Linked DNA regions of Homo sapiens: all the other regions are reported to be linked to region 2. The links are microRNA targets in miRTarBase. Many come from high-throughput screens and were not tested one by one. Region 2 holds a microRNA gene; each other region holds the end of a gene's coding sequence.

Evidence for each region. Region 2 holds the annotated microRNA hsa-miR-3156-3p (CUCCCACUUCCAGAUCUUUCU, at 2,662-2,682, opposite strand). A microRNA usually pairs through its seed, bases 2 to 8, with sites in the 3' UTR of a target mRNA and lowers its output. Matches are read on the target gene's strand: a 7mer-m8 pairs with bases 2 to 8, a 7mer-A1 pairs with bases 2 to 7 and ends in A, and an 8mer does both.
Region 1: the mRNA of ARHGEF26 is a reported target of hsa-miR-3156-3p. Seed matches in the 3' UTR shown: 8mer at 2,149-2,156.
Region 3: miRTarBase lists ALDH1A2 as a target of hsa-miR-3156-3p. Seed matches in the 3' UTR shown: 7mer-m8 at 567-573 and 7mer-A1 at 1,624-1,630.
Region 4: miRTarBase lists MTA3 as a target of hsa-miR-3156-3p. Seed matches in the 3' UTR shown: 7mer-m8 at 3,226-3,232.
Region 5: the mRNA of MRTFB is a reported target of hsa-miR-3156-3p. Seed matches in the 3' UTR shown: 7mer-m8 at 2,430-2,436.
Region 6: miRTarBase lists PRDM4 as a target of hsa-miR-3156-3p. Seed matches in the 3' UTR shown: 7mer-A1 at 1,964-1,970.
Region 7: miRTarBase lists HLA-DOB as a target of hsa-miR-3156-3p. The part of its 3' UTR that is shown has no 7-base or 8-base seed match.

Annotation. Positions count from the first base shown.
Region 1 is chr3:154,254,864-154,258,925 of GRCh38, reverse strand. ARHGEF26 (Rho guanine nucleotide exchange factor 26) reads right to left here. Exons shown (of 15, transcript NM_015595.4): 15 at 1,101-3,595. The coding sequence ends at 3,453. Among named protein-coding and RNA genes, the nearest start is that of DHX36, 68 kb to the left of the region's middle.
Region 2 is chr10:45,162,676-45,166,743 of GRCh38, reverse strand. MIR3156-1 (microRNA 3156-1) reads right to left here and starts at 2,730; the gene lies at 2,656-2,730. It also overlaps the pseudogene ANKRD30BP3.
Region 3 is chr15:57,951,469-57,955,536 of GRCh38, reverse strand. ALDH1A2 (aldehyde dehydrogenase 1 family member A2) reads left to right here. Exons shown (of 13, transcript NM_003888.4): 13 at 268-2,108. The coding sequence ends at 340. Among named protein-coding and RNA genes, the nearest start is that of ALDH1A2-AS1, 110 kb to the left of the region's middle.
Region 4 is chr2:42,752,665-42,756,732 of GRCh38, reverse strand. It overlaps MTA3 (metastasis associated 1 family member 3), which reads right to left. Exons shown (of 17, transcript NM_001330442.2): 17 at 1-3,359. The coding sequence ends at 3,334. Among named protein-coding and RNA genes, the nearest start is that of OXER1, 9.4 kb to the left of the region's middle. RefSeq lists enhancers at 1-118, 119-689.
Region 5 is chr16:14,261,085-14,265,152 of GRCh38, forward strand. It overlaps MRTFB (myocardin related transcription factor B), which reads left to right. Exons shown (of 17, transcript NM_001308142.2): 17 at 1-4,068. The coding sequence ends at 360. Among named protein-coding and RNA genes, the nearest start is that of TRT-CGT2-1, 23 kb to the right of the region's middle.
Region 6 is chr12:107,730,864-107,734,931 of GRCh38, reverse strand. PRDM4 (PR/SET domain 4) reads left to right here. Exons shown (of 12, transcript NM_012406.4): 12 at 410-2,061. The coding sequence ends at 722. Among named protein-coding and RNA genes, the nearest start is that of PRDM4-AS1, 3.7 kb to the left of the region's middle.
Region 7 is chr6:32,809,905-32,813,969 of GRCh38, reverse strand. HLA-DOB (major histocompatibility complex, class II, DO beta) reads left to right here. Exons shown (of 6, transcript NM_002120.4): 4 at 137-247; 5 at 499-530; 6 at 719-1,207. The coding sequence ends at 754. Among named protein-coding and RNA genes, the nearest start is that of HLA-DOB, 5.1 kb to the left of the region's middle.

The DNA of each region.
Region 1 (4,062 bases), not on the chromosome of region 2:
ATTCTAAGATAGAGGTAGCTGATTGCTGTTTCCTATCACATAGCTAGGTGTATCTTAGCTGCAAGAGATGCTGGAAACTCTAAGCCTCAAACATCTTAAGGTTTTATAGAAGGTGTTATAGGCAGAAATCTAAGATGTCCCCCAATATCCCTCCCTGATACTACATCCATAATTATTTTATATTGCATGGCAAAGGAATTTAGCAGATGTAATTAAGGTCCCAAATCATTTGATTTTGAGTTAGTGTCATAAGGGACTTATCTCATGAGTCTAACCTAATTATGTAAGAAGTTATTTAAAAGCAGAGTTTTCTCCCGCTGGTAGCCTAGGAGGGAGTCAAACAGATTCCAAGTGAGAAAAGGAGTTAACATGCCATTGCTGCTTTGAAGATGGAAGGAGCCTGTGGCGAGGATATGAAGGGCCTCTAGAAGCTGTGAGCAGCCCCCAGCTCACAGCCAGCAAGCAAACAAGGACCTCAGCTCAGCAACAGCAAGGACGTGAATCCTGCCAATAACAGAAATGAGCTTGAAAGAAGACACCAAGCTCCAGGTAAGAAAGCAGCCAGCCAACACTTAGAGCCTTGTGAAACTCTAAGCAGAGAACCCACCCATGCTATTCTAGACTTCTGACTACAGAACTGTGAGATATTAAATGGGTATTGTTTTATGCCACTAAGTGTGTGGCAATTTGTTATGCAGCAAAAAAAAAACTAATGTCAAGGAAGTCATTTTTTTACTTCTACCAAGGTTCACAAGGTGGTAAAATTTCACAAACACAAGGGTTCAGATACGAGGTGACCAAATGAATGGTAGAATATGCTCCAGGGGATAAGGGAACTGTGCACTATGTAAGATAAGCGATTTAGTCCTGCAGGTTTATGCCAACTACGAGAAGAAACAGCATGACCCATCTCCTAAAAATGTTCTAGTCTTCTAGGGCAGCTGATGCCAGCATGTACCCAAAGAGAAAAGATTAGTCCTCTGAAATGTTAGCTACAGATACCTTTTAAATAGAGCTCTGATTTGGCCAAAAACCCAGGAAACTGTATACTTAACTGAAAACAACCTAGAGTAAAATAAATCACACCAGCACAAAAGGACAAGTATCTACAAAATCTTTATAAATTCACATATTTTTCTGAAAGTGTACAAGCAGTCTCAATTTACTGGGACAAAAATGAACATTTTTGTTCTTTAGTAATGAAGTCAATGTACAATTCAGAGCAGGTGTCCATAGAAACAACTAGGTTTGAAAAAACTTAAGACAATTCACAGTTGAAATCAAACAAACACTGTGAATGTGTTAAATACTTGCCATATAACAACACTTTAACATTGATCTTGCTAAATAAGGCTATGATTCATAAGATGCATGTATTTCCAAAGCTGTTTAACATTCTTATAAATTAATTCACAGGATTCAAATAGTTGCTTTTTAGCTTCAACTGGGTATTAGCAAAAATAATACAAAATGATCCCCGTGCAAGCACAAATTTACCTTCCTTCCTAAATAAAACATGACAGATTATATTACAACTTGATAGCCTCTCTTTTAAAAAGTCTGTGACATTATTAAAGAGGTGACGGAATGCTTGTTTTGCAAACCCCAACACATCTTTCACTGTGGACCATTGCTATTACTTCATTAACACAGTTGCTCAGATCTCAAGGTACTCACGGTCTGAAATATATTTTACAATTAGAAGGTATGCACAGGTCAAAAAGAGCAATCCAAGGGTTAGAAGTCCCCAGTGCCCCACACTGGCTCATTGCCGAGGTGACAGGGTGCAGGCTGTGTGAGCCAGGCACACTTACCCCTCAACTGGGCTTCTGTAGCTTTACAATTTGGATAACTAGTTAGCGGACAGTAGTTGGGACATGTCACATACAGATTTGAGTCCTCCAATAATGTACACTTTGCCAGGTTTTATCCCTTTGTTAAAGCAAATAGAACAGAGAGGGAATATAGCTGCCAGTAAAAATCATTTCCCCCCTCTTAATCTCCCATCCTTCATCTCCATGAAACCGACTATTAAGATAACCTTTCTCTCTCTGTGCACTAGTGGAAAAAGTAAAGTTCTATAGAAACTCACAGTTAAGAGGGACTCTGAATACAGCAAGTTAAGGCTTTTAGTGCAAATAGAATGAATTCCCACTAAGGTCAAAAGGTTTCAATTGGGTACCATGCTGACTTCTTGGTATCTTTTAAGGCCTAATTTTCCCTTCCTTGAGATTACTGTAGTGTGTTCCAGCTAATTTCTATTTGGAAACGAGTTGGAACAGCTGAAAACTAGGTATTATTGAAGGCAAAGCAGCCTCACGTCAGTTTTTTATCAGCTCATTTGGGAAGGTTTTTTTTTTTTTTTTTTTTTTTTTTTAATTAATTAGAAAGTAGGCTGGGCACGGTGGCTCATGCCTATAATCCCAGCACTTGGGGAGGCCGAGGATCTCCTCTCTGGTGGATCACTTGAGGGCAGGAGTTAAGAGACCATCCTGGCCAACATGATGAAACCCTGTCTCTACTAAAAATACAAAAAGTAGCTGGGCGTGGTGGCATACTCTTACAATCCCAGCTACTTGGGAGGCTGAGGCAGGAGAATCACTTGAACCTAGGAAGCAGAGGTTGCAGTGGGCCAAGATCACACCACTATACTCTAGCCTGGGCGACAGAGGTGGGGAAAAAAGTAGGACCCCTGTCCTATATTCAGGTTTTTCTCACATATATGAACCCATCTAAATTCTACGTTGTTAAAGGTAGCTTAGGTTAATTAGTCTATACTTATTTAAGAACAATATGGGGTGAGATGGATTTTTTTTTAAAAATCCTAAAGTAAGGCTTTCTACTTTCCTTCTAATGAGGAAAAAGGTGACAAAAATTCAAGTGTCAATGTCCCCTTCCTGGGAAGAGGTTTAGAAAAACAACAGCTCACCTTCTGAACTCTACCAGTTCCTTTTGAAGTTAACGAAGCATTAAAATCAGATGTAAAAAAAGAAAAAAAAAGGCAGGGAAATATTTACAAAACTGGACATTCTTTACAGATATACAATCTTGCTAATACTGGGAGAACCATACAAGGATGTATAAAGAGAGACAGTCACCTTAGTAATGCAAGGATAGAGAAAACCAGGATATAATATGTGTTTTTTATTGCCAGAACATGGTGAAACTAGGAGGAGCAGAGATGACCTGATCCCTGAAGTGAACTGCTCAGCTATTCTGTGTACCTCAGGAGGTCTGCAAGTGTGTGGTTAGGTAAAAACTGAGCTGTGCAAACTCACTGTATCCAAGCTCTTCTCATGAGAGAGCAGAACAACCTGGCAAGCTTAAAGGCAAGTGTTTTCGTTCTTTTAATTAAATAGGCTGTGACAAAATTAACAATAAAACTAGCCCAGAACCAACCAGCCCGGTAAGTGTCGTGCAAATCTTGCAGTAACAAAAGACCATCTGAGAGACTACACGTTGGTCTCCAGTCCTAGCAAGCGTCCCATTCTCTCCACATTCTTATCAATTGTAGCTTGACATGTTATCTCCTTGGCACATTCCATAGGAAACCAGCCTCTTTCTCCATCTCGTAGTCGTTCCCCCTCATACCAGCCTGTGAAAAAGAACAGAGTCCACACCAAACAACAAGTATTTGGAGTGTGCCAGGCTCCAAGGATATGAAAAAGCTGAGAGGCAGCATCCCTCCCCAGGCTAAGTGCTACGGTGAGAAGAGAAAGTGGGACAGGGAAAGCTTTCGAGGGGGAATGAATGACATGGCAGGGAAAGAACGTGAGCAGAGGCCCTGAAGTGAGAAGGCTGAGAGTATTTGAACCTGGGCTGAGCTGGGAAAGGAGATGCTTTGGGTAAAGGATAGCAGGAAGAATGCTATTTTTGAAAGGACGAATATTTAGAGATAAGAACTGGGTCACTGAGGGACTGGGGAAAAAAGAAAACGTCATGGTTTAGCCTTAGAGATGAGAAGACAGTACATATATGTGATCTCAAACATTAACATGTCAAGATTTGGAATATGGGCAATGATGACAAAATGACACTCCTCGGGTCTATAGCACTCTGCAT
Region 2 (4,068 bases):
TTTTTAATCTAAACTCCACTTGGAGGATATAGTGTAACCTTCTTTCCTGTTTACTACATACCTCTGATTTATTGTCTTATTTAAGACATATTTTCTCAAGATAACTCACATGAATTTATGCATTCTAAATATTAAAAGAAAATATACATTTAAGCCATATTTTGGAAATGCATTAGATTTTATTATAAGATATATTATGCATATTATCTTACTTGTAACATTTCATTACATAAAAATTCATTTTTCTGCTTATTTATTCACATTGAAAACTTTTAAAACTCTTTTTATAGGCAAGACTGTATTCTGGGTACACTAGGCTGCACACAAGTATGTTTTCTAACCTGCAGTATCTTATAGTGATGCAAGAACTTCAAAACGATTATTTAAACAACTCAATACAAAATCTTCCAAAATTTAAAATTTTCAAATGTGATAAAAAATCTTTTAACAATATGTTTAAAAATTGCAATTTAAAAATTCTGAAATTAAAATTCTACCATATGCTTAGTAAGATTCTCTGCTTCCATACACTGGTTGTTTACTTGGGGTAAAACCTGCATTCTTCATTGAGATGAAGAGTGTAAAATATACTTTTAATGAAATAATTTAGAAAACACACTGGCATGCCTTAATAATACAGACTCTGAGAAAGAGAATTTACATTTCTAAATTTCTACAATTATTTTTTAAAATTAGAGATAGGCCGGGCATGGTGGCTCATGCCTGTAATCCCAGCATTTTGGGAGGCCGAGGAGGGTGGATTACGAGGTCAGGAGATCGAGACTGTCCTGACTAACAAGGTGAAACCCCATCTCTACTAAAAATACAAAATAAATAAATAAATAAATAAATAAAATAAATTAGCCGGGCATGGTGGTGGGCACCTGTAGTCCCAGCTACTCAGGAGGCTGAGGCAGGAGAATGGCATGAACCCAGGAGGCGGAGGTTGCAGTGAGCCATGACCGTGCCACTGCACTCCAGCCTGGGTGACAGAGCGAGACTCCATCTCAAAAAAATAAATAAAAAATAAAATTAGAGATAAGGTCTCGCTATGTTGCCCACACTGGTCTCAAACTCTTGGGCTCAAGCAATCCTCCTGCATCAGCCTCCTTGGTAGCCGGAACTACAGGCATGTACCACCATGCCCCCAAAATTTTCACAATTTCTAATATTATTTTGGTGTAATTAAAGAACCAAGAAGAGAAACTGAGAAAAAGCTCTCTCCTAAAAACTACATGATATCAAAATAATACGTGCAAAAAAAACCCTATATGCTATGTGGCACAGTTTTGGAACTGAACAGTATCAGAGAGATTCCTTGATTACTATAGTAAGTAACTGGATCCATTAAATATAAATTTAAGCATGAGTTTTTTAAGTGACAATAGAATAATTTTAAAAGTCACAGTAAGTACACTTATCCAAATAAACCTTTACCAGATTTTATATATTCTGTATTGTGGAAAAGTTTTTTCTAATATAATGTTCCTATCACTATGTATTCTCCAGTCCATTCCTTTTGTTGGCACTCACACCCTCAAAATATTTACCAATCATTTGTTATTTACTAAAGTAAAAAAAAAAAAACGTTAAATCAACTACTCATATTTCCATAAAATGTTTTTATCTGACCAACTTTATATTACCAACATGAAATAATGGTAATTACACCACTGCTAAACATGAAAAGTAAATACTATACAGAACTAGATTCCAACTGAGAAAATCAACTTCACAAGAGACCATTTTACATTGGTAGCAAGATTAAAGTCTTCCTTAAGTTTTGTAGACTGTGAATTTTCAATAGTCAGTTTGCTGAACAGATTTTAGAGAAAAAAAGATACAACAAAAATAAGCAAATTCATATATTTAAAAAGAAAATCTGCTAGTTCATATCTTGGTGCTCACTCCAAAAAATGAAAACAAAAACCAAAATCTGGGAAAAATCAGTCTTTGTATATTAAATCATGCTTCTTGGTATAATTAAAATATGCCCTCTGTTTTTAAAAAAGATTTTAGTTACCTATTTTTGACTCTACCTCCCCAACCTATAACATCCAATGAAGACTGACTCTTAGTTCCATAATAAGTAGTGACAGCCAATATAATTGGCATACCCTGAGTATAATTCGTCCTCACAAACTGTCCTTAATGATTAACTGAAAATCTACTTAATGGCTGACATAACTTTTGATATCTAAACTGGAACAAACTTGATAACCTAAAATGAGGTAGAAAGATACATTTACCTTGTTTCTTCTCCATTATCTATCTCTGATTCAAAGACTAATCTGTGTCACTGGAAAATGACATTCTTTGTTTTTCAGCATAAAAACCACTTAAGAAGGCCCTGTTGCTTCCCTTCACCCTAAAACACTGCAGAGAGTGCCCTGAAATATTTGAAATGTTGAAAAGCTGAACCTACAAATGTCAAAACACAAATGTATATTTGTTATTGGGAATGTTTTTCTCAACAAAAATTGAAACATTAAAAATAATAAAATCTAATTACTTATTTTGTACTTGTCTTTCCTTATTCAGGTCTACATAAACTAGAAAAGCCTTAAAAATCTTCATAGGTACTTATACCCAAGGAGAGAGACTGCTAGAAAAACTGAGTCCTGATAGTTGGATTTCTCTAAATACTATATTTACACAGAGAGAAAGATCTGGAAGTGGGAGCCACTATATATAGTAAAAGTGTCTCCCACTTCCAGATCTTTCTTCTGCAGAGCTTCATGGCAGTCTCCAACCTTTAAATATTCTGCTCATCAAAGCACAGATTACTGAAAAGATAAACTCAATGACCAACCTAGAAGCTCTGTATTTACCTGTTCCTGGAAAACAACTAAATGGAGTCTCAGTCAGTCATTCACCTCCAGCGTAAGCATGTTATCAAAAACCCAACTGAACCATGACTTATTTGACAGCCAATCTTACCCCTGCTTTACATGTACATGGGTAAGACATCAGAGGCTTGGAAAAAGAGGCAAAGGGGAGGGGACACCTGCCCTGGGCCACAGATCTATGTAATTCAGCAACCTTCAATCCCCTAGCACTCAAGGGGCTCTAAGCCACTCCTGTGAGATTTGGGGTGAAAGAACACAATAGGACATTTCTATCTGCTTGCAGAGAATTTTTGCAGTGGCTTTTTTTTTTAATCTTTCAATAGAAAGCATGAAGTGTGTCCATTTCTCCAATTAAAGAAGCGAAAAAGCAGCGACCTATTCAGGACTTCCTTTGAACCCTATTTTAGTATGAGTTTCTAGATAACTCCCAATGTCATCTGTGTTTTTGTTCCTCTAATTTATCTTCATCAAACTTGTCATAAGATCCAATATTCTGATCTCTTTGGTAAAATCCTTACTCCTACCAGTCCTGGGATTGTTTCTCTTCAAACTTGGCCTTTCCCTGGTAATTCCATTCTTATCTACTTCCACTGGGTTCTCCAGCTAATTCCATTCTTATCCCTTTCCATTTGTTTAATTAGACCCATTCCCTTTTCTTTCTATTATTCAAACACTCACTCACATGATGTTATAAAAACAAGAGTAATGGGCTTTGAAATGAGTTTAAATATTACTTCTGCTACCTCTGATATTTAAATAAGTCACTTTGAGTTTCAGATTCTCCATCTGAACAACCATTTTTCCAGGATATTAAATACAGATTGAAATATGAAAGTATTTTGATTAGTCTCCAAGAGTCCTTACAATCCTAAAATTCCATGTGCTTTTAATTTTAGCTATAGAAAAATGGGGCTGGTGGAAAGAATAAAATCATACACGAAAAGAACACCGAGGAAAGCAGAGAAGAAAGTAACCAGGAAAAGACTATAGAAAAGTCATGGAAGAAGAAAAAAGACTCTAAAAAAAAATGAAGAGTGCATGCAACTAGGCAGGGTACTGCTTTGAAGAAAAACTAAACTGGGAAGTCAGTAAATAGAGAAATCTATAAGAAATAGCCTCTAAATATGATTAATATAACATATCTATATGTAGATATTCTCCACTAAGAGTAAAATAATTCATCTATAGGATTCACCAGGTCTTGCTTATGAAACAAAAA
Region 3 (4,068 bases), not on the chromosome of region 2:
TGTGAAAACAAGTCACCTTTTAACTTTAAAACTACTTTAAAAAACTTTAAAGTTTTAAAAAAACTTCTTTAAAAACTACTCATGAGATGACAGTTTCTCTGACCCTCAGAGGAAGGCTGGGCTGCGCATACGTGAGGAATTTTTACATGAACATCCCAGGACTTGCTGTTCGCAGGTGATAAACTGCACCTCCCCAGGACTCCCGCTGCACTCACATGCAGCTCCCTGGACTTCTGGTATCTGACCCGGCCCATTTCTGTGTTTCAGGGGAGAATTTGGCTTGCGGGAGTACTCAGAAGTTAAGACGGTGACAGTAAAGATCCCCCAGAAGAACTCCTAAGAAGGCCAAGAAGGAGGATGAAGCCCAGCCTGCACGTCTGTCCCTCTCTGCTTTCTCTGTAGGGCCCAGCTCTCAGGAATACAAAGTTGAGCCACGGTCCTTACTTAAAGATTGAAAAGATAACATGTAGGCCAGGCAGGTCACTGCACAACTAAAGCAAACCAGCTGGGTACAGTTTCTTGGCACTCTGTAAGGGGCCACCTTAATCATACCAAATATTGGGGAAAGTGGGATAAAGGGAGGAGGAGGAGCTAGCAGACACATCCAGTATCTCCTTCTGGAGCACAGGATGAAATAAGGGAGCTGTATTATTTCATGTCTTTGTCACAAAGAACTTTCCTCTCAAGGAAAGGTGACCTTTCTCCTGTCTTCATTTTCCTCCTTCCAGGCCCTCCTCGCTCACCCACCCCTCCCTCTCTTCCAAGGAGATGTCAGCTGAGCTCATTCTGGGGCAGATGTTTGGGCCGGGAACAATTTTTCAAGGTTGTAAAGCCAAATTATCATTTCATGTTATCCATTTCTTCAAAGCAAAACATGAAATGGTTTTAGCTAGAGTCAGACCAGAATGAAAATGCCAGGAGCTGGTACACTACAGATGTAGTAAGAACCTGGGATATTCCTGACCCAATCTGGTTTTCTTTTACCCATAAATAACATGAATGAAAAAAGATTGGGACAATAGAGACTGGAAGTCATCATGTGCAGTTCACCGCTTCTGAGCTTGCTGCAGTTTTGGGGTGTGTGTGTATTAGATTCCTTCTCAGTTATTCTGGAATAAGGCAAGGAGTGGGTTGTTTTTCATAGCTAGATAAGATCTTTTCCAAAGTTTTTCTTAGAACCAACCAAAAAACAATCCGAGTAGGCCCAAGAATTTGATAATGCTGGATGCCTTGCAGACATCATTCAGTTTCTAATATTGGGCAACAATTATTATTAAATGAATTATTTCTGTAGTTGGAATCTGTACCTTCTGAACCTCTACACCAATAACTGCTGCAGGTGTGATTTTGGTCTGTCACACTGTACATCTATCATAATGTGCCCTGTATCTATTGGCAGTGACCTTGGAAAATCTGGCCAAGCCTAGGGGTTTCCTTTTCCATTTGCCAAGTTCCATTGTGCCAGGACTGCCGTGCTCCACTGAGCTCCTCTGTCACACCCCATTCTTGCCCCTCACTGGGCAGGCCATGGCCTACAGCTTGCAGGGAGTAAAGCAGGCCCGCCTCCCTTTCTTCCCATCCACATACTCCTCTTCTGCTTTCCAGTGACTCCACCAGTTTGATGTGGGAAGTGTTAGCTTCCTTTCCTTCTTCCATCCCTTCTTCCATCTTTCCAGCTGTCAAATCCAATCCAGTCTCTAACCTAAATGCAGATCATTTATTTAAAAGTACCAAACATAACCCAGAGTATGTGGAATATGGGCAACATATATATAGCCTTCTGTATTTAACGATCTTCTGCTTCTTAACCGTACCAGTTTTCTATTTATAACTCTTATCTATCCATGATGTTTTAAAGTCTCCACTTGCTGTTATTTACAAACGACAGTGCATTCAGCAGCCCAGTGCCGTGAGCCCTGACAGATGCCGTATTTCTGAGTGCTTCCATGTGAATGCTGCCCTCCTGTAGCATGTGTCCAAGTGGACATAGCCACTAACCAACTAGTTACCTTTGGACTGCAACAAAAAATGTGAAAATGAAGATTTATTTCTTTTAATTTACTTAAAAAGAAACCTCTGTGCTAGCAATAAAGCATTTATATTGTGTACTCCTTGGGATTGTTTGGCTGTGTCTGTAAGTCTTTGGGTCATACTGAGTCTCTTTGGGTCCTTCCTCAGCTGCTGGGTTTTTCAGCTGTGTTGCCCTCTTGGGTAACTGAGCAGAAGCCTGCAAGGGTATTTTTACAGAATTCATTAAGGCAACTGGTAAATGGTATTAAGGTAAACAAAAACCTTATTTTCTGATGCTATTTAAAATCTGTGTGCATGTGTAGTTTAGCTGGCATGTAAGTATAACCATATATGAAATATATGAAATAACAAGTTTCCTTTAGAATAGCCTCCATGAAAACTAAAATGCAGAGCAGTCTATAGGGTCTGTTTTCACAAACGTGGACTACCCGCCGTGAGCTCACATTGCTGATGGCATTTCACAGTAGCTTTATTTTTACTTACTTACCAAAGTGAAATGAAGTCAGAGGCTGATAACCTGATGGAATATTTTTGCAGCTGTAAAAAGAAATCTGTAAATGGTGACCGTACTACTACCAAGATTGAGCTTGTTTTCTCTCAGTGTGTTCTCAGAGTTGCGCTTTTGAGGAGTGGTTCCCACCCTTTAGAACCGCACAGCTCCCCACCTTTCCTTCCAGCCCTTGGAATCTCCACCCAAGTTCCGATCAAGTGAGACAAAAGCTAAACCTAATGAATTAGCCCCAGAGCAGATCTCGCTTGGGGGACAAGAAGCATTGCTGTGGACTGGGGTTCACTGCTCTGTTTGCCAGTAGCTTATTTTTTAGAGGAACAGAAGGAGCATGGGAGAATGCAGCCCCTGCAGCACCAGATGGAACTGAAATATAAGATGCGGGACTCCCTGACAATCCACCTCATGTTCTGTCCATTGAGCCATCAGGAAAAAAATGAGAAAGGCCTGGACATGAAGTAATCATTTGAAAGTCTTTTAGAAAGGTGCCATTGTTGCACGTATAGATAGCAGGAATCTGGAGTCAGATAGACATGCGAAAACATTTCTGATGAATAACCTACAAAGGCAGAGAGGAGAGGCCAAGCTCGGCATATTTATGTGACAGTGAAGAGATGGGCTGGCAAGAGCAGGCACTGCATGCTGGCAACTAGTCAGACTACAGAGGGTCTTAGGTCAGCCAGAGCTGTTCCCTAGTAATGTAATAGAAAACAGAGACACTCGTGGGCTTTGAGTTGGAGTGTAATGGAAGCAGTGGTTGGAGTATACTGGTCTGGAGCAAAGCGGATGAAAAGAGACTGATTACAGAGTTTGTTTGCCATAAAACTATGGATGGCATAATGCTAGGGGGGATGGAGAGGAAGGGAACAAATCAATGGAGAAGTTACTGGAACTTAAGGAATGAATATGATGATAGAATGGAAAAAGTTTATTAACCAGGGAAGGTAGGAAAATGGTAATGCCCCTGCCAAAGAAGCTACAACATGAAATGCAGTTGTGGGGAGAGATCTTGACTTCAGGCTTTTGACACGTGAATTGTGGGGTTATGAAGGGACATCCAGATAGAAATCTCAAGCAGGCAATTGCAGATGGGAGATTCGGACTTGGCTCAGGTGGACCAGATTCTCACATGAACATAAAAGTGATGGCTGCAGATCCAGAGAGGGTGAAAATAAAACCAAAACCAAGGCCAGGGAGAAAAAGCCCAGCAAAAGAAATGGAGGCTGTAGTCAGAGAAATAGGAGGGAAGCTCTACAGGTGTTAACACCCCAGAAACAAGGCAGAGAAGTCAAGGAGCACAGGCAGCAAGGGGTTGAGAAGTAGAGGGTGGTGTGTGGAGCCCGTGCATTAGGGGCTTTTGATCTCTGTCTTGATGAAGTAGAAGCTGATGGTGTGCATTAGCTGGGAGGGGTGATGGCAGTACCCTGCTCTAAGCTGTGAGCCATGTAGCCTCCCCCGTGCCTGAGGACAGCCCCTGCAGTGGCAGGCCCTCATCCTGAGCCGTCCCACAGACTCCCCCACCACCAGGC
Region 4 (4,068 bases), not on the chromosome of region 2:
ACATGGCCTTCCTGGGGGGAATGGTGAGGAGGGGCTGCTAACTGAGTAAATTCCCCCAAAGGAAAACAGGGACAACAGTAAAGAATAAAGGCTTCCCCCTCCCTCCCCAAAGCCGTTTCCTCTCTAGGCAGAGTAAAACAGAATCTCCAAACACCCACGGGGCAGCTCCTCCACCTCCCCTCGCCAGGGACTTAGGACAGCAGTGGGGCATAAACACCAGGCTCAGACATGACACCGAGTGCACTGAGGCCACGCACAGCCCCACCTGCTTGCCCTCAGCCCCCTGCTCTGCTCTGAGTGGCAGGGGACTGACCCGGTGGGTCGCCTGTCCCAGGCTCCCAGGGCAGCTGCTTCCAACTGGGTTTCACTACTGTGAGGCACCTGCAGGACTCTGGAGGCCAAGAGGAGGGGAGAGGCTGGGGCCCCCTCTCTCTGCCTGGGGAAATGTTTCTGACAAGAATCATGGCTTCTCGAGGCTCCAGCCCCCACCAGACAGGTCCACAGTGTGGCAGGTCCCCCAGTGGCCTTGGCCCCAGGCTCTGGTGACGCGTCCTCCCCTGGTGCCCAGCCAGTCTCAGGATGGGGGCGGCTTGCTGTTGTTGTTCCCCACCTCTGGGTTGCCCCTCACTCCCCTGTTTTGCCTCTCAGCTTTTCTTGTTTTGTGTTAAACAAATCTCTGGATGAAAACCCCCACTTGAAATCCATTTTCCTGGGTGGGCCCTGAGAGATGGAAACTGGGCTGTGCACAAGGGGAATTGTGAAGGGCAGGCTGAAACCTTCCGGCGACACCCTCCAGTCGGCCCTCCTCTCTTGCGCACCTTTAAGAAGTGAAGGGTGGGCAGGCGATGACTGAGCCAGAGGGGGAGATAGCCTGCAGAGCCTGTGTCCTCACCCCAGGGGCATGTCTGCTGGGGGCTGCGCAGACAGTCTCTGCACGTCCACCCATGTGCTCACTGAACCACAGTGACATGCCACTGACACACAGCAGGGACACCATGGCCCCAGAAAGGGAGCGGGTGGCTGGGAAACCCTCTCAGCACCAAATGCTTCCAACGGCAAAGGCACAGACTAGAGGCGCCTCGGCACCCTTCCTCCATTGCCTGGGGGATTCTGTCAGAACGAGGGGGCAGTTTCCAGAGACAAAGGGAGAGCGTGAAGTCTCAGTCAACATCACCCTCCTAGGATGACTGGACTACAGAACCACGAGCTTTACTTACAAGAGGAAGGAAAAGCCTGCTTGGCACACGTGGCTCGAACAAGCTGCGCTTTTCCCAAAGCCAAATGTCAACTGGGTAGATAGGAGGGGCCTCCCTTCTCCTGCTTCAGACCTGGCCTGACTCCTGTCTCCAAATCTCTTGGGCCTGGGTGAGAGGGCCTCTCCCAAAAGGCAGAGAAAATGAAGCTGGCAGCTGAGTCACGGGCAGCTAATTGTTTCCAGAATCTGCAGTCACCACTTAGTAGGGGTTCAGAGAGAAAGTGAAAGGGTGAGGGAATCATTTCCCCTTCTGGGTCCAAGTACGACAATAAATCCAGAGCAGGGTACAGACAGACAGCTTTCCTGTGTCTTTTTCTTTAGGGAAGAAACATCCACGTGATGCGGCACCTCCTCCCAGGTCTTTGCTGAAGGGACCCCTCAGTGGGAACCCTGAGGAGAACCCCTGCCTGCCACCTCCACCCCTCTCACCAAATGCTTCTGACACAGGCCCCACCCTCAGCGCCCCAAGCCAAGACCCAGCACAGCTCCAAGAGTGGGTGGTGGTGGAGACATCCCATGCTCGCCCTTGCAGAAGCCTAAGATGAGAACCAACTCCTCCTCAGAAAAGAAGCTGAGATGTCTGCAAAACCGCCCTCCACCTCACACAGCACGCTCTCTCTGCCAAGCGGAGCTCAGCCTCCGAGGACACAGACATCTACAGCATCATTATCCTTACCAAGTTACCTCGTGCTTCCCAGGGTGTCAATTCAATTGTAGCCACTCTGTCTTGCAACAGCTTGGCTATTTGGGCCTCTCGTATCTGCCATCCAGCTGCCTCCTAGTAACCCCAGAGATGGCTGGGAGATCAGACTCCAGTTGTCTTTCTTGGGACTGTGACCCTGTGCCTGCAAACAGAGGGCAGGGGAGTTGCCAGCCTCACATCTGCTCAGGGAGCTCATCGGGCGCTGAGCTATTCCTATCCTTGCAGCTGCCAGCACAAGTAGCACAGCTACTCAGCACAGCTGAGTGGCCAACTGTGATGCCACCAAGGGCTCGTGCCGAGGGCAGGTGGGAAACACGAAGAGCCCAAGCCAAAGGAGCAGGCAGGTCCCCCGGGGCCTAGGTCACATGTGCTCACAAGATGTTGGGCTGGAGGGGTGGGGGTCATGGGGTTGGCCACACAGACTCATACCCACAAACACAGTTCTCTCACTCCACACCTCTAGGCCAAACAGAGTCTGTCTGCTTAAAATGAAACTAGGTCATTTGTGACCTGCTGTAGGACCCACCTGGCAGCAGTTCTTCATCAGCTGGTTTGGCTGCAAGGGAACAGGGCAGTAAGCAAACGGCTTGTCACAGTGATACACACGCTTGGCACTTTTAACAACTGCTCTTGCTGGAGCTGTCTGTGACCAAGCAGAGCCGGGCAGAACACCAGTTTCTCTCCAACCACAAAACACAGATGATGAGTTTACAGGCTTATCTTTTGTCAGAACCTCGGTAATTCTGTTCCTTGGAGGAGTAGGAGGGAGGGTCACATATAGGAATGCAGAGGGTAAACAGCAAATTCCCCCATTTCAAAAAAACAAGGATGAAGCCTATCGAGAAAAAGCTGAGTGACGGTAACAGCAAGGACAGGGAAATACCTTGAACCTCATAAACACTGGCGCATTTCTTAAGAAAAATCCATTCAGAAAGATGCCATGGCCCTCCTGTACATATTTAGTAACTATACAGCATAAGACCGAGCTGAGCGGACACATGCAGGGTGGCAGCGGCTCTGAGCTTGCAGCAGCCCCACTGCCAAGTGGCCGCTGTTGCTGGGTGGGGCGCAGGGCGCTGCAGAAGGGAGGAGGTGGAGGGGTTCCCTCAGCCCCTCAATTCTCAGCAGGTCTCGCTCCGTAACAGCGAGGTCTCTGACAAGAAAGCGAGGTGCTGCTGATCCACACGTGGAGACACAGGATTTGGAACGTGCACTCCCACAGTTCCTTCCCCGCCCCATTGCGTCTCCATGGATGCACGCAGAGGTCTCCCACTGAAATGTACTGGGAGTGGGGCTGCCTTCTTCCCAGGCACGGCTGTGAACATCAGCAGGACAGTGCAGCAAGTCTTGGATTGTAGAATGAATCAGGGAAAGCTCAGTCTGACACACAGCACGTGAGTTCTAGAAAAGGGAAGTAACAGTGTGAAGGTTAAACAAGTCCCGATGGTGGAGGCAAGATGAAAGGGAGGATGGACTCACCCCTCCCAACATCACAACCTTCAGGGAAAGGAGGCTCAGCAGTAGGTCAAAGAAAATCTCATGACTAGGCCAGGTGTGGTGGCTCATGCCCATAATCCCAGCACTTTGAGAGGCCAAGGCCGGTGGATGGCTTGAGGCCAGAAGTTCAAGACAGTCTGGACGACATAGCATCACTCTGTCTCTACCAAAATAAAAATAAAAAGTTAGCCAGGTGTGGTGGTGCATGCCTGTAGTCCCAGCTACTTCAGGAGGCTGAGGGGGGAGGACTGCTTGAGCTCACAAAGCCAAGGCTGCAGTGAGCTGTGGTCGCACCACGGCACTCCAGCCCAGGCGACAGAGCAAGACCCTGTCTGAAAAAAAAAAAAAGGGCTCACAATGTAGTTTAACACTGGATCAAAGGGAAAGTTTAATTAGGGCCAATAAAATATATAATTGATACTGAAGGACGGAAAGATCTTAAAAGCTGGGTTTTGAATAGGCGGGTTTAGTGGTCACTGGAGAGGTGCTACAGTACACCAGGCAAGAGAAGAGACTCATGGAACTTTTCTGACGGATACTAAGGAATAGGGAACACAGTTGGCTGGGAGGAGGCACGATCTCATCTGAGCTCATCATAATTAATCATAATGAT
Region 5 (4,068 bases), not on the chromosome of region 2:
CAACTAGAAGCTTTCTTGGATGGAACTTTACCCTCAGCCAATGAAATTCCTCCACTACAAAGCAGCAGTGAAGACAGAGAGCCCTTCTCTCTGATCGAGGACCTCCAGAATGATCTGCTGAGTCACTCAGGTATGCTGGACCATTCACACTCACCCATGGAGACTTCCGAGACCCAGTTTGCTGCAGGTACTCCCTGTCTGTCTCTCGACCTGTCAGACTCAAACTTGGACAACATGGAGTGGTTGGACATTACCATGCCCAACTCCTCTTCAGGACTCACTCCTCTCAGCACCACCGCGCCGAGCATGTTCTCTGCTGACTTTCTAGACCCACAGGACCTACCGCTGCCATGGGACTAACGTCACAGATTTCTTTTCTGAGAGTTGATGAGGTTTAAGAACATGAAGATTCTAAAAGGTCAGTTTTTAGAGATAGATCTATAGTTGCATTGTTGCAATCAAAATATGTTGTCACAGAAAGAATAGGTGGAAGGTCATAGCCTGGAACCCAAGTTTGAAAACATTTCATTGTGTTCAGTAGTGAATTTCTACAGTTTAACATAGCACAGGGCCTTCTGAAAATCGCACTTGTCAAAGACGACTCATCTATTTCTCCAGACTTCAGTAAAGAATGAAAAGTACCTTTAGATAAAAACAAAGAAGAGTAATATATGCAGCACAGTGACGTTAGGATTCTGGTAATTAACTACATTTAAATCTCTGGTCACTTTAAGACCCTAAATAAAAGGCAGACAGCTCCACTCAAAAACTAAGGCTGATGTGAGGGAGGTGAGAGGTCACTGCACTTGGTACTTCCTAGAGACGGCCGGAGCCAGGCCCAAGACACAGCAGAGGTCAAAGGCAGTGGAGAGCCTTGGCCAGTTCAGTGACAGCTTCTGGCTGAAGACTTTTGGTTCTATTCAGAAACCTGTGTCGTTTTTTTGGTGTTGTAGTTTATTTTGTGATTTTTTGGAATCGTACTTTATATTTCCAAATTTAAATTTAAATGCAAGATCTTTCAACATAAACAGAAGATACCTACAAAATACTGTCAGAAGTCCAGGTATACTGATAACACTGAAAATTCTATTAGCAACCTTCTGGGTTGGTTAGATTGATTTTAATGTATATATTAGACATTTGTATGTATGCTCTGACATTGTGATTTGTACAGCCTACGCTGGGGTAAGGAAATGGGTATCCAAGGTCCTACTTTTTTAATAGCTCGAATATTTCTAGAGTACTTGAGCCACATGTATTTCTGTATTTAAAGAATTGCTGACTAACTTTCAGGTAACCAGACCCATCTCAAAGAACCAAGAAAAGGCTTTAGCATGAAATATCTTTCTGAGCTGGCGAGTTAGAAGAATGGAAGGTAAGGGGAAGGTCTGTCATCTACCCAGGACATTCCCATGATGAGTACAGGTCAGATTGTGCCACAAGGTGGGCCTCCACGTCCCTGCCCTGGCCCTCTTTCTTCTGTCACTAACCCTGGTTATCATTTTACAGGCTTGTAACTGGATATTCTACCAGAGCTCTCACTATATTGTCAAGCCTAAGATTGAAAAACTGGAGGCTTTATTAGTGTTTTTATATAGAAAACAGTTATTACATATGTGTTAAGTCATTTCTTAAGAATTTTCTAAAATGCCAACTATCACAGGATTATTTCAAGCTAGTCATTGAGGTATATGACAAAATGTAAATAACAAAAAACTGAAATCTACCAAAAGAGCATGGAGATTTTTCTTAAATAATAATATTGTGCTCTCCACCTCACCCTTGTGTAAACCCTCAGGTCAGGTTGGTTCCCCTGGGTCACAAAATGGTAAATGTTCCATACTGACATGCCGGAGGCAGCCTGACCCGTTATTTGGAAAGAATTTGTGAATTATTTCTGGGTTTGTGTTTTGCCTAAGAGCTGATCTTATTTCTGATTTGTGTGTGTGTGGTTTATAAATTTTACTACGTGTAACAAAAGTCTGCTTTTCCAGCATGAGCACACTGGAGCCCTCTGCTCACTGGCACTTCCTGACTCAAAGGCACTAACAGTGCTCATGTGCCTTCCAGACGGTTCAAGGCAGAGGCCACTGTGCTCAGTGTAGTCTGTGATGAATAGTTTAAGTGTTCAGAAATTGGTAAACCAACACACGGGATACAATAACTCTCTGTTAACCAGAACACCGTCATTTGACCAAGCCCTACAAGAGTTTACCACACTAGATGTTCTGTGAATCCTCGAGTCAGTTCCATTGAGAGGGGCCTGTCTCCAGGGCCAGGCTATTTACTTGGGAAAGTATTTTTCTTACAGTTCTTGGCCACAGTTTTTTTGCTGAGGGTTTCTGTCTGGGCCTATCAGGTCCATACTTAGACCCTGAGCATCTTCTTCATTCAGATTTGAATGGCTTATTAAATTAGCACCAAATATCAGTGGGACTGTAGAAGGTAACCGAACACTAGTACCATTGACTCTCGTTGAATAACTTTATATTTCCATAATCCTGAATTGTGTAGATAGTTTTCTAGCTCTCGGGTCCCTTTATTGCTTTTTAAAATAGGGTTTGAAACATGCCACAGGAAGGTTGCTCTCCAAAAATACACAGTGCAGTGCAAGAAAATGCTATCTCATTGGCCTACTCTCCTATGAATTGCTAAAGTGCCCACTTCACATATGTGTTTAAACCTTTATAAACCAGTATTTCACTTTTAAAAAGACAAGGCATCTCTACCCATTAACTCTGCAAGCCACTCCACTTGCACCATTCCGCTTGACCCTCCTCTCTCCTGGCTTGGGTCACCAGCCAGGCACCTGTGACACGAGTGCTGCTCTCCAGGATCTCCACTACATGTTCCAGGTTGGAGTGAGGACGCGCTATGTGCTCACACTCATGTGACATGACCAAAGATGATACTCTGTAAACAAGGCCCTTCTGACCGGACTCAGTGCGTGTGATGGTGAGTGCAATGAGGAAGGGTGGATATTGACTAAAGACTGGTTGTTGTTGTTGTTTAGGTTAGTGTCACAGCCATTACAGCACAAGTCAAAGTCGCCAGTTGAATTTTCATTATGCACGTGTGTGGTTTAAGCAGTGGTACTGTTGTATATCATATTGTAAAGTATCATACTGCCAAGAAAATAACTCCTAGAAAGGCATTATCTCACATCCCCATCTTACTTTCCTACATGTTCTCAAAACACAGTAGTACCAGCCTTACCTTTCTGCTGTATGTAGATAGTCAGATCATCCTACTGGGGGTGGGATGAATTTAAAAGTTATACCAAAATTTCTGTAAAGTCTTTGAAAGTCTAGGAGTAGGTGGTCATCTTGTACATTTCAGCAAAGCATCCACTAGGAAACCTCATAGGACAGTGTTAGTGGTTCACGTTCTAGTGTTTTTCCTGAAATGTGCAATCTACTGTATAGTATTGCCACATAATTGTACATAGATGTATTCTGAATTTGTGGAATTTCTTGCTTAGATACTATTGTGTTTGTTTCATATGAATATTTTTGTAATTCTAAAAGAGATCTTATTTAAATTTCCTTTTTAAAAGCCGCATGGTTCTGTGATCCATGTAACTGACACTTTTTGGCTTTCAGTGCTGTTTAGAAACAGTGGCAAAGGCAGGGTGGTGCTGCCTGCAAGCTGCTGCCTATGGAAGGCAAAGTCATAGTAATGAGATAGCACCTCTGAACTGTGCAGTCAGCATACCCTGAGTGATGGCTCAGGGGCGCACTACCTATTTTGTCACCAGAGCTGACTCAGGCTTCCTGGACCCTCAACCCCAGATCATTCCAGGCAGCATAGCTTTCTTCACAGTCCTTTCAGAATTCCCAGGCTGAAATCAGCCATAGCAGTTGACAAAACAGCTATCCCCACAAGTGATGAGATAGTCCCTTTACTGTCCTCAAATGGACTTGGCCTTAGAGACGTGGTAAAGCACTTTGGCAGGGTTTAAAATATTTGTGAGAAGCCCACATTTCAGTATACATCCTCACTGGCTTCCATGCACCCACCTGACGGTAGCCTCACAGAAGTCCTGGCTGTCACTCAGGTGGGGAGCTC
Region 6 (4,068 bases), not on the chromosome of region 2:
ACCACCAAAACATTCATTAGCTAGAGACAAATCCAGTACCATAGATAAGTTGTGGTGTATTTGTATATTTGTAAATAGTATACAGCAGTGGAAGGGAACAAACAACTGATACAGCAGCTTGAATGAATTTTATGAGCATCATACTGAGAGAATGCAGCAAGACAAAAGAAATACATATAGAATTTACATAGAATTTGAGAATTTACATAGTATTCTAAAACAGGAAAAATGAGCCTACACTGTTTTAAACTATACATGTTTTATGAGTCTTCTGTATATCACCTATGCAAAAGCCTGATTCAGAAGGATAGAGCTGCTCTGACAAAGGCCTGCGGCTATGAAGAATAAGTGTTGCCTCAGTTGTTATTTGTAACCCCAAATCAAATGTTTTTTCTTGTGTTCCTCTTAGAGAACGCCAGATCAAGTGTCCCAAGTGTGATAAGCTGTTCTTGAGAACAAATCACTTAAAGAAGCATCTCAATTCTCATGAAGGAAAACGGGATTATGTCTGTGAAAAATGTACAAAGGCTTATCTAACCAAATACCATCTCACCCGCCACCTGAAAACCTGCAAAGGGCCCACCTCCAGTTCGTCAGCACCAGAGGAGGAAGAAGAGGATGACTCAGAAGAGGAAGATCTAGCAGACTCTGTGGGGACAGAAGACTGTAGGATTAACAGTGCTGTGTATTCAGCGGATGAGTCTCTTTCTGCACATAAATAAAAGGAAAAGAAACAAGCAATTTTGGATGAAAATGCAAATGGAAAAATACACATAACCAGTTATCTACTATAATGGTTTTTATATAAAATGGTTCCTGATTTATTTTCAGCCAGTAATCAAAACAGACTGGGAATGAATAAAGCACTTACAGAAGAGTATCCTAATGAAAACACTTTAAAACAGATTGGGAAAACTGAGCATGTGTCCTGTTTTAAGTGGTGGACTGGGAGGGAAGTGTCAACTTCTGAGGTCTTTATTTACATGATAATCTGGGAGATGCATTTATGCCTGAATCAAAGCTGCCTTCTGCTCAAACAAATCAGATTTATTTCACATTCTTCCATTATTCCATTTTCCTGCTGGTCCTGTGACTTGGTAACATTCTAAACGGTCCTTGCCCCATAGCCATCCTGATTGCTGATAGTGTTTTATGCAGACTCTTGTGACTTATACTCACCACAGAATGGATTGGGACACAGCAGCATAAGTGTGCTACTTGGCAGCTAGTAAGTTTAAAGCAGGACCTGCCTTAACTGCTCCTGGCCACTTGGAAGTTTAGGGTAGATCTTGTTTTCCAAAGTTTCGGCAGGTGCCTGGAGGGCAAATAAAAAAGCAGCAGTCAGTCAGTAGTCAGTGATGGAGAGAACAAGAGGAGAGATGCCTGGCCTCTGCCCAAGAAATTAGCTTTGATGGAAGCCTGAGCAAGTCACCTGGTTATTGTAACGTGGAGATCTTTGTAGGTTTAGACATGGCTCCCTGTCTCCAGTAAACATCCAGCCATTCAGACAAAGGGGGCCTGGAGATACAGAGAGCCCAAATAATGCCTGCTGGATTGTCTCCTGATGAGTACATGTGGACTCACCTGAGGAAGGGAAGGAAGGGAATAATCTTTTATGTTTCATTTACCTTATGAAAAGTGTTAAAACATTGCCAACTCAAAATAACATTATTTAATGCATGTGCAAAGTTAGGTCTTCCCAGTTGTCTCAGTGCTGAGGAACCTCATCAGAGAAGCATGGAAGATGCCAAAGGATTTTTGGAAGGTAAAGAAGGCTGAATAGTGACCACATGGGCCTGTTTTCAGGGTCCCAGCTTAGTTAAGTCACCCATGCACCTGGTCATTGTGTCTCCCATGCACATCCAGCGTTTCTCAGAAGCAGACCCACCCTTAAGTTGACAGGATTGATGGAACATGCTCTCCTGCTCAAGGCACAACCTCTGGGCTGGAGTAGAGGACTCTGGTGGGAAGGTTTTGCTGCTAATGTATTTATGGAATGAATGTATTTCATTCAAATCTGTATTCCTCTAGGAAGGATTAAAATTAAACTTTTTTAAAATACAGGATTCCTCTGGTAGTCTCATTTCATGGAGGAAGGAGATGAGTGAGTCTTCTAGGGAAAGTCAAGTACAATTTGAATCTTTCTGAGGTTAGAAGAAGAGAGCATTTCTAGAGTATTTTAGCTTTTGAGATCATATTCTTATTGTTTCTGCTGTTAGTACTTAAGACAAACTGCTTCCTGTGCTTCCAACCCTCTTCTGCCCTGTTCCTGCCTAAGGTATGCCTTTACTCTGTTACCTCCTTGGAGAAATGTGGCAGGTCTGCAGTGGAGGGTTGGGGGATGTGTTGCGGATGGTTAGGGTTGGCTGCTGACACTGGGTCGTGACGCCTCCCTCAGGGCAGCTCTGGTTCCTAGGGCAGCTTCAAACTCAGCATTTTGCCAAAGGCATCCAGCTGGCTGGTTCCCCCATACCCAGGAAACCACTGGTACTGGGACTCTAAGCTCCCTTTCTTCCTTTATCTCAGTAGCACACACTGGGTTCACTTCCTTCATTCCCAAGACTGAAATGATGCCCAAGATAGTTACGCCTAGTGTCAGAGGAACACAAACAGCAGAGGAAGCTTGGAAACCTTTTTAGTGAAGTTGTAGCTGTTAGTGCTTAGTATTTACAACTGTCTCTCCATTTTTTTACCTCTTAATTTTAAATTCTAAGTCATTTTCACAAGATGAATAAATAAGTAAGTGCCCTTTGACATGAATGTTTTCAGCCTTTTCTGCCCATTTTGGGTGGCCTTGCTGCTGTTGAGTAAATGGTCACGGTGAGAGGCAGGATGTGTATGTAGGCTCTGGAGCCCTGCAGAATGTTCTCTAGTGTGGGCTTTGCTGTGTGATGAAGGTTTGTAACCTTGGCCAAGTTATGTAAGCTCTCTATGCCTCTTCCCTTAACTGTAAATGGAGAGTATTAAGAGCGCCGCTTCATTATACTGTTTAGATGTTAAGTTCATACGTGTCAGTGGCTCCCACAGTGCTCAACATAAACAGTAGCTGATATTCTTTAGTTTCCCATTAGTCTACATTTTTCATTTTAACATAGGTTTCTACACTAAAAAAAATTGACATATAGAATATCCAAGAAGCTCTAGATTTTAGTAATATAAATAAAACTGGAATAATTTGAGTTTTCAAGGCCAAAGCCTATAAACTAGTTCAGAGTATTCTTGCAGCTCACTGTATGCTTGGCATTTCCTTCTCAAAAAGGTCAGTGGCTCATAATCCTGGCATTTTTGTTGTGCTGAGATTCTCAGAGGGCAAAGAGGTAACAGGAAGTAGAGTCTTCGTCAGCCTTTTCACGCTTGACCTGTGTCCCCGCTTTCTAGTAAACACTCCTTTACCTGTGTCTCAAGAAGCATAAACATGCCAGAGGCTGTCAGCACCTCATCAAGTATGTAAACTTGATGATCTGATCACCAAACTTGGAGGCACACACTAAGGAATGACATATCTCCATATACACAAGTGATTATGGTCTGTTACAGGTGAACACACCGCCCCCTGCCAACACCACCAGATTCATATGGTGAAGTCCTAACCTCCAGTAATCTCAAAATGTGATTGTAGTTGGAGATACGGTTTTTAAAGAAGGAATTAAGTTAAAATGAAGTCCTTAAGTTAGGACCTAACCCAATATGACTGGTGTTCTTAGAAAAAGAAAATTTGGACAAAGCCTTATACAGAGGGAAGATGATGTGAAAACAGGGAGAAGACATTTCCAAGCCCAAGGAAAGAGGCCTGGAACAGGTCCTTCCCTCACAGCCCTCTGAACAGTCCTGCCATTGCTTTGATCTCAGACTTCCAGCCTCCAGAACTGGGAAACAATACATTTCTGTTTAGTCTTCCCGGTCCATGGCAATTTGTTGTGGCAGCCCTGGCAAACTAAACAGTCTAACCAGATATACGTTCTTGATAATGATTGCTTAAAGGGGAGCAGCTTCCAGTATAGTGACTTCAGTTTAACCCCAGCTTTACAGATTAGCATGAGCAATATAAAGGCAGGCACCATTTCTAGT
Region 7 (4,065 bases), not on the chromosome of region 2:
CGAAGAACCTTTTCTAAATTTATTTATTTTTCTCTAGCTAGCATTGGATTTGGTGTCTAGTACAGATTCTGGGATTCCAAGAAAGTGCTTTAAATATTGGGATATTTTTACTAATTTAAAGACCTGTTTCCCATAGGAGCTCAGTCTGAATATTCTTGGAGAAAGATGCTGAGTGGCATTGCAGCCTTCCTACTTGGGCTAATCTTCCTTCTGGTGGGAATCGTCATCCAGCTAAGGGCTCAGAAAGGTAATGAGCCTGTGAGGAGTGCCCTGCCACCTGTCCCAGACCTTCCCCACTCCCACCTTCCCTAACGTCAATGATCTGAGGCAAGGAAAGCTGATTGTGCCTCTCAGGGATCACCGGGATAATTTTTTTCTGAAGCTAGAAATGGGATAAGCAGAGAGAGTGCTGACCTTGCCAGCCATTTGTTCTTCCCTCGGGATAATCATATTGGGTCCTAATTGGGGCAATCCATTCTTTTCTCGATTTCTTTCCAGGATATGTGAGGACGCAGATGTCTGGTAATGAGGTAATGTCTCTTTTTCCTTGTCTTTGAGTGGCAGATCATTCTCCCGGTTCTTTGGCCAGAGGGAGATGACATGGGGGTAGGGAGGAGTAAGGTTGCTGCTGTCTGGATGGGACTGTCCCCTGAGTCTCTGGAACGGCTGTGGGGGGTGGTGAGGCTGCCTCCTGAGACCTTCATCACTGTGCCTCCAGGTCTCAAGAGCTGTTCTGCTCCCTCAGTCATGCTAAGGTCCTCACTGAAGCTTCTCTCTCTGGAGCCTGAAGTAGTGATGAGTAGTCTGGGCCCTGGGTGAGGTAAAGGACATTCATGAGGTCAATGTTCTGGGAATAACTCTCTTCCCTGATCCTTGGAGGAGCCCGAACTGATTCTGGAGCTCTGTGTTCTGAGATCATGCATCTCCCACCCATCTGCCCTTCTCCCTTCTACGTGTACATCATTAATCCCCATTGCCAAGGGCATTGTCCAGAAACTCCCCTGAGACCTTACTCCTTCCAGCCCCAAATCATTTACTTTTCTGTGGTCCAGCCCTACTCCTATAAGTCATGATCTCCAAAGCTTTCTGTCTTCCAACTGCAGTCTCCACAGTCTTCAGAAGACAAATGCTCAGGTAGTCACTGTTTCCTTTTCACTGTTTTTAAAAACCTTTTATTGTCAAATAAAATGGAGATACAAAAAATGTACATTTTAGTGAATTATTTAAGAAAAACCCCTGTAATCAAGTCAAGGAACAGGACTTTGCCAGCTCCAGCGGAAGTCTCTGTACGTCAGGCCAATCAAAGCCTCTCCTTCCCCTCGAAAGTGACCATATCCTGATTTTATTGTAACCTCTTTCATGTCTTTGTAGTCTAGTCCCCCAGGTATGTGTTCCTGGACGCCACAGCTTAGTTGTCTTTTACGTCTCTCATACTTCACTGGTTTCTCCCCCATCAGCCTTTTTTTCCCCCTTATGATTAATCTGTTGAAAAGCTCAATCCATTTGACCTGTAGAGTTTCCCACACTCTGGATTTTGCTGGCTGCGTACACATGGTGCAGTGTAACACATCCTCTGCCTTCTGTGCCTCCCGCAAATTGGCATCTGGATGCAGAGGCTGGATCAGACTCTGGTTCAATCTTTTCCTTTGGAAAATCTATACGTGGTGTTGTGGCCTTTCACCATGAGAGACATAATTTCCAGCTGTTTCTTTTTGTGATGTTAGCAACCATTGATACTAATTGCTTAGGTCTGTTAATTTATTGGGGATTGCTAAATGGTGGTATTCTGTCATTTTTTCTTCATTTATATGCTTTATTAATGCTACAAAGAGACAGTTCCCTTCATTTACTAGTGAAGAGACACTTCCCTCCACTTACTAGTGGGCTACTTAGTGGTACAGTGGAAAGGCAGGATCAGTGTTTGACTCTCCTTTTATTTACCAGTTTTCAAGTTAGCAAATTGGTTTCCTACTATTAATAAAACCTACAGATGGCCAATCAGGTTTTACTTTTCATTCTTTAAATAATTATAAACAGAAGGATTTAAATGTTTGATAGGTTTTACTCTATTGCAATTTTTATGCTTGTTAAAGCTTATATCCTACATTTTTGGTGAGTGAAAACTTCTTCAAGTGGCTAAAAATGAAACTGAGTTCTTTTGACGCAAATTTCTTTTGATAATTTCTTTGTTATCTGGGATGACAACATGTTTCTGGTTCATCTTGTTCATTTCTTGGCCAGACCTGGAGGTAGCCATTTTTCCAGAAATCCCTGGTTTAGTTTAGTGGGAAATGACATTTAAGACTATAATCCAGCGTTAGGGTGTTTTGTCCCACTGAACCCGCTGCTGGAGTCACCTCAAAAGTGGCGTCAAGGGAGTTACCACAAGGAAGTTCCTGAAACCATTCTGAGATGGTGTGGGTTAGGATTCAAAGAAAGAAGCACTAAATGCCAGGGTGATCAGTCCAAAACATTTGTTTAGGGAATTTACCTACAGAGGGCTTCAGGAGTCCTTGCAGACAGCAAGAGAAAAGGGATGTTCTGCCTAGGTATGTCTGCAGCGAGGGGGTCAGGGTATGGAGCTTATATGAAGGTTTAAGGAACCTGGCTCAGGGCTGGGACAAAGTTTCAGTGTTTAGAGAAACAACCTAGATACGTTTATCAGTGCCTGGGAGTGTTCAAGGCCTTGGCTTGGGTTCGAGCCTGCTGGGAAAAACCTGCAGCTGGCTGGGTCACAGAGGCATTCTGTGATTTTTCGGTCAGGACATGGAAAGAAAGCAGGGAGAGGGGCAGTGGGGGAGCCTAAATAGATAGGAATGGTCATTGTGTCCAGCCTGTTCAATGGCAATAAAACATTTATACATGTATACATTTAAAAAAATCAGTCATCCAGGCACGGTGGCTCACGCCTGTAATCCCAGCACTTTGAGAGGCCGAGGCGGGCGAATCACGAGGTCAAGAGATTGAGACCATCCTGGGCAACACGGTGAAACCCCGTCTCTACTAAAAATACAAAAATTAGCTGGGTGTGGTGGCACGCGCCTGTAGTCCCAGCTACTCGGGAGGCTGAGGCAAGAGAAGCGCTTGAACTTGGGAGGTGGAGGTTACAGTGAGCCAAGATTGTACCACTGCACTGCGGCCTGGTGACAGAGCAATACTCCATCTTAAAAAAAAATCAGTCTTCTCTATATTACTTCTGCATCTCCTTTCTTTTATACCAAGAACTCTGGTTTTCAAGGACACAGGGACAGACACAATTAGAATGTCCATACTTATTTGCTTTTCCTGAGTTAACATAGACAGCAGTCTAAGGATAATAACACTCATACACAACCACCAAAATGGCTACTGAAAACGGTTGAAATTCTTTTTACCTACATTCTCCCTATTACCTGTGTTCTCCCTTTTTACCTATGTTCTCCCCCGCTTTCTAGTTGAACTATGTCTATATTAGTTGATCCTGTACCATTGCATAGACTACTTGCTCCCTTGTTAGTCTTAGTTCTGTGAGTAGAGATATGTTTAATGCTCACCATCATTCCTTATGTTGATATCCCTGTCATGTGGTGGTTTTCAAGGTGTGGTCCATGGATTCCTGGGGGTCCCTGGGACCCTTCAAGGGGCCTATGAAGTCAAGCTATTTTTGTACTAATACTAAGATGTTATTTGCCTTTTTCACTGTATTATTTACATATTGGTACAGAAATCTATGGTGGTCACGTGAAACTGTTAGTGCCTGAGCACAAATCAAGGTGGTGACACCAAGCTGTACAGGTAGGTCATGTTCTTCACTGCCATAAGCTTACAGTAAAAAAAAAAAAAAAAAAAAAAGCAAAAGCCAGTGACCTTGATGAAGCAATAAAATCATTAGTTTACTAAATTTTAAACCTCAAGCACACATCTGTTTAATAGTCAGTGTAAGAACATAGGCAGCATTTCTGGTGCATACTGATGGAAAGGCAGTTGTCCTGTGGAAAAGCCATTATGTAATTGCATGAGTTGTGAGTGAAGTTAAACATTTTTTTTTTAGTGGGTCATCATTTTCCTTGAAAGAATGACTGAAAG